Linked DNA regions of Homo sapiens: region 1 is reported to be linked to region 2. Evidence: microRNA targets listed by miRTarBase, many of them from high-throughput screens and not tested one by one. Region 2 holds a microRNA gene; the other region holds the end of a gene's coding sequence.
The links. The annotated mature microRNA hsa-miR-4756-5p reads CAGGGAGGCGCUCACUCUCUGCU and lies in region 2 at 2,276-2,298, opposite strand. An mRNA with a match to its seed (bases 2 to 7 or 8) in the 3' UTR can be bound and repressed. Matches are read on the target gene's strand: a 7mer-m8 pairs with bases 2 to 8, a 7mer-A1 pairs with bases 2 to 7 and ends in A, and an 8mer does both.

Region 1: miRTarBase lists TPM3 as a target of hsa-miR-4756-5p. The part of its 3' UTR that is shown has no 7-base or 8-base seed match.

What each region holds. Positions count from the first base shown.
Region 1 is chr1:154,165,303-154,168,302 of GRCh38, reverse strand. TPM3 (tropomyosin 3) reads left to right here. Exons shown (of 10, transcript NM_152263.4): 10 at 363-3,000. The coding sequence ends at 366. It also overlaps the pseudogene RN7SL431P. Among named protein-coding and RNA genes, the nearest start is that of NUP210L, 12 kb to the right of the region's middle.
Region 2 is chr20:54,066,177-54,069,328 of GRCh38, forward strand. It overlaps MIR4756 (microRNA 4756), which reads right to left and starts at 2,309; the gene lies at 2,232-2,309. All of the region lies in intron 1 of BCAS1 (brain enriched myelin associated protein 1), which reads right to left. RefSeq lists an enhancer at 3,137-3,152.

The sequences.
Region 1 (3,000 bases), not on the chromosome of region 2:
TGGGTGTGTTTAATTGGTTCCCTGATATTAAAGTTCAGGGAACTACCCAAGATGGGAAATACCAAATTCACCTAAGAATTGAGCTGAGTCCCAGAAGCAAGCCAAGTGATAAACAGCACCAAAAAGAGTTGTTGGGGCTTCATCTGTTTGCTGTGGATCCCTGATCCTTGATGCTAATCTGCCTCTTTGTATCTTTCCCACTAACCCTGAAAAGAAGCCACATTTCTCAGGCTGAAGTGTCTGGCTCTCTTTTATTATTCCTGCTGCCACCTCTTCCTTTTTTTCCTCTTCCTTTTTCCCAGTTTGCTATCTAGATTGATGCTAGTCCTTCTCACCTAGAGTATCCTTACTTTTTCATACAGATAATTATCACCGTTTCTGCTCTGTTCTGGATCTGCCCCCTTTACTCCTCGGGGAACCCAAGGCCCCACTCTCGCTCTGGATTCCATTTGGGTCAGCCTGGCTGGTCCCCAAGGCATTAGGATGGGGGAGCAAAAAGCAACTTATGTATTTTCTTCCACCCCCACCCCAAATTAAAATGTTAAGCTGCTGGAAACCTCATGCCACCCTGCATTTGTGTCATTGACAAAGCTGTTGCTGTCCCTAAGAAGGAGCCTTGGGGGTGTGATGTGGGGAAGAGCTATTGTAGGCTCCCCCTCCTCTGACTTATGTAATCAAAGCCACTTTTGTGTGTGTCTATTTTTTCTTGACATTTAAACTCAGCTGATCTGATTCTACCAGAGTGATGGATTTAGTACAGGTTACTCAGGATAGTAATTTTAGTTATACTCCTCAAGCTGAACAAGATTAAATTCCTTATTTCCAGGTTCTTAAATCATCCTGCCTGCAGTGTTTCCATTCTCTCTTCAGGTATTCCTCCTTTGGTGTGGTGTCATTGAGAAGCCATTGAAGTGACTCTCAATACACATTCTGTACCCTTTTACCGGTGGTTCAAATGGTGCATCCTCAGAACACCCAGTGAACCCAATACATTATTGCTAAGATTGACTAATTATGTCAACTCCAGTCACAGAAAAATACACAATGGATAGAATTCTGGACGGTTTTTTTACTTTTTCTTCTTTAAACCTTTCTTACATATTTGAGACTTGCTACCATTTGCCTGCTAGTGTGTGACTAGTGGGATATAAGATAAGTGATAAATTATTATTGGGAAAACTAAAATGACCAATCATGCATATTTCAAATAATGTGCATATGAGGCTAATGATTTATTACATACATAAATTTCTGCTAGTAAAATTTTCCTTGGTTCATATTGTGGAATTAAATATCAACATTTTAGAAATTCCCATTATAGGCCGGGCGTGGTAGCTCACGCCTATAATCCCAGCACTTTGGGAGGCTGGGGCAGGTGGATCACCTGAGGTCATGAGTTCGAGACCAGCTCGGCCAACATGGTGAAACCCCGTCTCTACTAAAAATACAAAAATTAGCTGGGCATGGTGGGTGGGTGCCTGTAATCCCAGCTACTCGGGAGGCTGAGGCAGGAGAATCGCTTGCACCTGGGAGGCGGAGGTTGCAGTGAGCGGAGATCGCGCCACTGCATTCCAGCCTGGGCAACAGAGAGACTCCATCTCAAAAAAAAAAAAGGAATTCGCATTCCAATTTACACAGCAGAGATTTCTTAATAGTATAGCTGTGAATTATACTAATCCAAGCACGTAAGTGTTGTTCACTTAGTACTTTAGTTTCCCAGCAGGGTATGTATTTAAAATTTGCTTTTCTTTTAGCTGGGTGCAATGGCACTTGCCTGTACTGCCTGTAGCTTCTTGGGAGGCTGAGGCAGGAGGATTGCTTGAGCCCAGGAGTTCTGCACTGTAGTGTGCTATGCAGGTCAGATGTCCTCACTAAATTTGGCATCAGTATGGTGACCTCCTGGGAGTGGAGAACAACAAGGTTGCCTAAGAAGGGGTGAACTGGCCCAGGTCGGAAATGGAGCAGGTCAAAATTCCTGTGCTGATCAGTAGTGGGATTGCACCTATAAATAGCCACTGTAGTACTCCAGCCTGGGCAACACAGCAAGATTCCATCTGTTAAAAACACTTTTGCTCTTCTTTTAAACAGATATAATCAGGTAGGGAAGTTTTCCTTAATCTAAAACTTTAAGTCATATCAAATTCACGTTTCCTTTTGTCCATTCCATTTCTTACTGCCGCATAGCCTTTGAGATTAAGGTTCAGATTCATTTATTCAGCTGACACTTCCTGGTATCTTCTAGGTATAGGATATTAAGATGGAGACAGAAATAAAGATGGAGGCACCATTCCTACTCTCAAGTTGCTTAGAATCTACTAGGAGAGAAAACATACATAAAGCTACAGATACTGTGTGATGAATGCCACAAATAATAGTGTTATGGGAATTGAGTAGAGGGGACGAGATTGATCCTAGTGGGAATGAATTGGAAAAACTCATGGAAGAAGGCATGTAATGGGTACTTCATAAACATGTTAAAACTTTTTTCTTTTTTTCTTTTTTTTTTTTTTTTTGAGACGGAGTTTGACTCTTGTCACCTAGGCTGGAGTTCAGTGGCCTGATCTCAGCTCACTGCAACCTCTGCCTCCTGGGTTCAAGCAGTTCTCCCACCTCAGCCTCCCGAGTAGCTGAGATCACAGGCGCCTGCCACCACACCCAGCTAATTTTTGTATTATTAGTAGAGGTGAGGTTTCACCATGTTGGCCAGGCTGGTCTGGAACTCCTGACCTCAAGTGATCCACCCACCTCAGCCTCCCAAAGTGATGGGATTACAGGCTTGAGCCACTGCGCCCAGCCAACATGTTAAACTTGCATATTCATTTTTATTGGGTTCCAAAAGTGGATTTTTGACAAGCAGAGTTGGGTTGTGGGATAGTGAATATTGAGCATTCCATTATTTATTTATTTTTCTCTTTTTGAGATGGAGTCTCGCTCTGTCACCCAGGCTGGATGGAGTGCAGTGGTGAGATCATGGCTCACTGCAACCTCTGCTTCTTGAGT
Region 2 (3,152 bases):
ATTCTCCTGCCTCAGTCTCCCGAGTAGCTGGGACTACAGGCGCCTGCCACCACGCCCGGCTAATTTTTTGTATTTTTGGTAGAGACGGGGTTTCCCCGTGTTAGCCAGGATGGTCTCGATCTCCTGACCTCGTGATCCGCCCGCCTTGGCCTCCCAAAGTGCTGGGATTACAGGCGTGAGCCACCGGGCCCGGCCGAGGCAGGTATTTTTATTGTCCCCATTTTACAGATGCAGAACCTGAGCCCAGGGAACTTAAACTCCTCACTTAAGATCATGCTATGGATTGAAATGTGTCCTTCCAAAATTCGTGTTGGATTCGTGTTGAAGCCCTAACGTGCAATATGACTGCATTTGGAAATGTGGCCTCTAAGGAATCAAGGCTAAATGAAATCAGAAGGGTGGACCTTGATCTGATAGAATTAGTGTCATTATAAAAAGAGACACCAAAGAGCTCTCTCTGTCTCTCTCTCAACCGTGTGAGGACACAGCAAGAAGGCAGCTGTTGGCTAGCCAGAAAGAGTGGTCTCACCAGAAATGCATCGGCCAGAACCTTGATCTTGGACTTCCAGCCTCCAGAACTATGAGAAAACAAAAATGACTGTTGTTTAAGCCACCTAGTCTGTGGTGTTTTGGTTACCACAGCCCAAGCTGACTAATACAGATCATCTTCTAGTAAGTGGGAGAATGAGGACTTAACCCTCGCAAACTCAAGTCCAGAGTTTAGACTTTTAACTTTTCTATTTTCATACTTTCTACTGTCTCTTCTGCTGTATAAGTGATGTTATAGTTTTATGAAATATTTATATGTAATATAATAGAACATGGAATAGAAAATATTTCCTGCATATTCATTCTTGCAATGAGAAAATTATAACTAGGCAAGGAATATATATGGTACAATCTAAAGTGAGGATTAGGCCGGGCGCTGTGGCTCATGCCTGTAATCCCAGCAGTTTGGGAGGCTGAGGTGGGTGGATCACTTGAGGTCAGGTGTTTGAGACCATCCTGGCCAACATGGCGCAACCCTGTCTCTACTAAAAATACAAAAATTAGCCAGATGTGGAGGCACAATGCCTGTAATCCCAGCTACTTGGGAGGCTGAGGCAGGAGAATCGCTTGAACCCAGGAAGCGGAGGTTGCAGTGAGCCGAGATCACACCGCTGCACTCCAGCCTGAGCGACAGAATGAAACTCTCTCAATAAGTAAATAAATAAATCAAATAAAGTGAGGATTGAACAATTGAAGGGTCACTGATAATCACTGTAAGGATTTAGCGCCAGGGCTTGGCAGTACTCAGGTGAGTAAACGTTAGTTATTGCTAATATTATTCATTTATCTTATTATTGTTATAATTGAGTTAGTTCTGTGTTCTGATCCATGAGTGAATTGGCCTCCTGGAAGCTGCCCTCAAATCCCTCCTCTTTTACACAGTGATTGATGGTCCATGTCGCCTCCTTGTAGTTACAGATTAATAATAGGCCCTCCTCCTGGAAACAGGCCAAACGCCAAACCCCATGCAAGCTGGCCTGGAGAAAGCACTTCTGAAACTTCATCACCAGCAGGCAGCTAGACGACTGTTGAATGGGAGGGGGGGTGGTTTTGAAGGGTGGAATGGTGACAGAATTAGTCACCAAGTAAACAAGCAACACCTTCGATCAATGCAATGGAATGTAGGTAACCCAGGGGCCCTCCTCACTGCTCAGCTGAGGGTGACGCCAACATGGCCAGGCTGGCACACCCAGCAGAACCAGCCCTCTGCCCCCAACATCAGTAAAGACCTTGCAGGAGGAAAGAACAACCCCGCTTTGCCTGCCCCACAGTCCTGCAGCTCCATGTGTGTGCCCGCACAGTGCTAGGAACACGGCAGCTATTATCAGGAGTGCCAGGTACAGTGCTACAGGTTGCCTCCTGTACAAGGGGACACAGGGAACTGAAATCCAGTCCTCACTGAACTGCCCAAGCCCTGATTCCTGGTATGGGACTTTGTGGGTCCAGGGGCAGGGGTGCCTTGATCAAAATCACCTTGGATGTTTTAGGGCTGCTTGGTGATTGATGTTTTGCTTTCGGAGTACTTAATTATGTTTGCACAAACGGATGGTAATCCTAAAAATCTTAGAGCTCGCTCTCATAGTCTTATTATTGCACCAAACATTGTTAAGTGCATGATAATCGCAGGTAATTTTAATTGGAGGCTTACTATGTGCCAGGCAGCACCAGGGTGAGCATAGCAGGACACAAAATATAGGAAGGCAACCATCTCTGGTGCAGAATCGGCAGCAGAGAGTGAGCGCCTCCCTGCATTTTATCCCCCAGGTGCTCACTGGCTTCACCCTTGCCCTGACCCTGGTGCCAGGCACTTCACACACATTGTCTCCTTTTCCCTTGCAGAGTCCCATTATTCCCTGATTGCACAGATAAAGAAACCAAGGCTGAGCAATGCCATCCCCTCATCTCACGAACGTCACCTCCATGAGGGTAGGCACCTTACTAGTCCTACTTGCCCAAGAGTAGCAGTCAGAAAGCTACGGGGAGGCACACCTGGGGTTTGAACCTGGGTCCACGTGACTCAGGCACTCAAATCCTGAACTGCTTCAGGGCAGGGCACTTGGCTTGAAGAGAAGCTGCAGACACAGAGACAATCAAGTCACATCTAATACTCCAGCAGGACAGATGAGCCTGCAAGGTGCAAAGGTACCCCCGCCCCCAACCCAAAGCCTTTTTCAATTCCTCTCCCTCCACATCTCTTGTCATGGTAAAGCAGGCAGAATCCATGGGCTTTAACGGGCCCATTGCTTTTCCCAAAGCTCATGCCTTTTTCCTAAAAACAAAACCCTTCTGGGTTCCAGAACTCTTTGGAAAAAAAGAATCTTCTGTGATTTGGGACATTGGTTTGTTCCCCCACCCTCACTTAAATGAGAAACTACTTTAGCATGCCCCGCCCCGTCTGTTGTCTTTATTTAGGAGGAAGCACCCTCTACATACCCTGAGTATATACACCCAGGGCCTGAAGCTGCTGTGATCAGCTCAGGATCCCCAGGAGGCTGAGGCGGATCAGGCCCTGGACTCCGGGGGAACAATGTAAGGGACACCAAAAAGCTCAGCCATGGAGATGAATAGTATTTTAACATGAAATTTGTGAAAATCAAAATTAC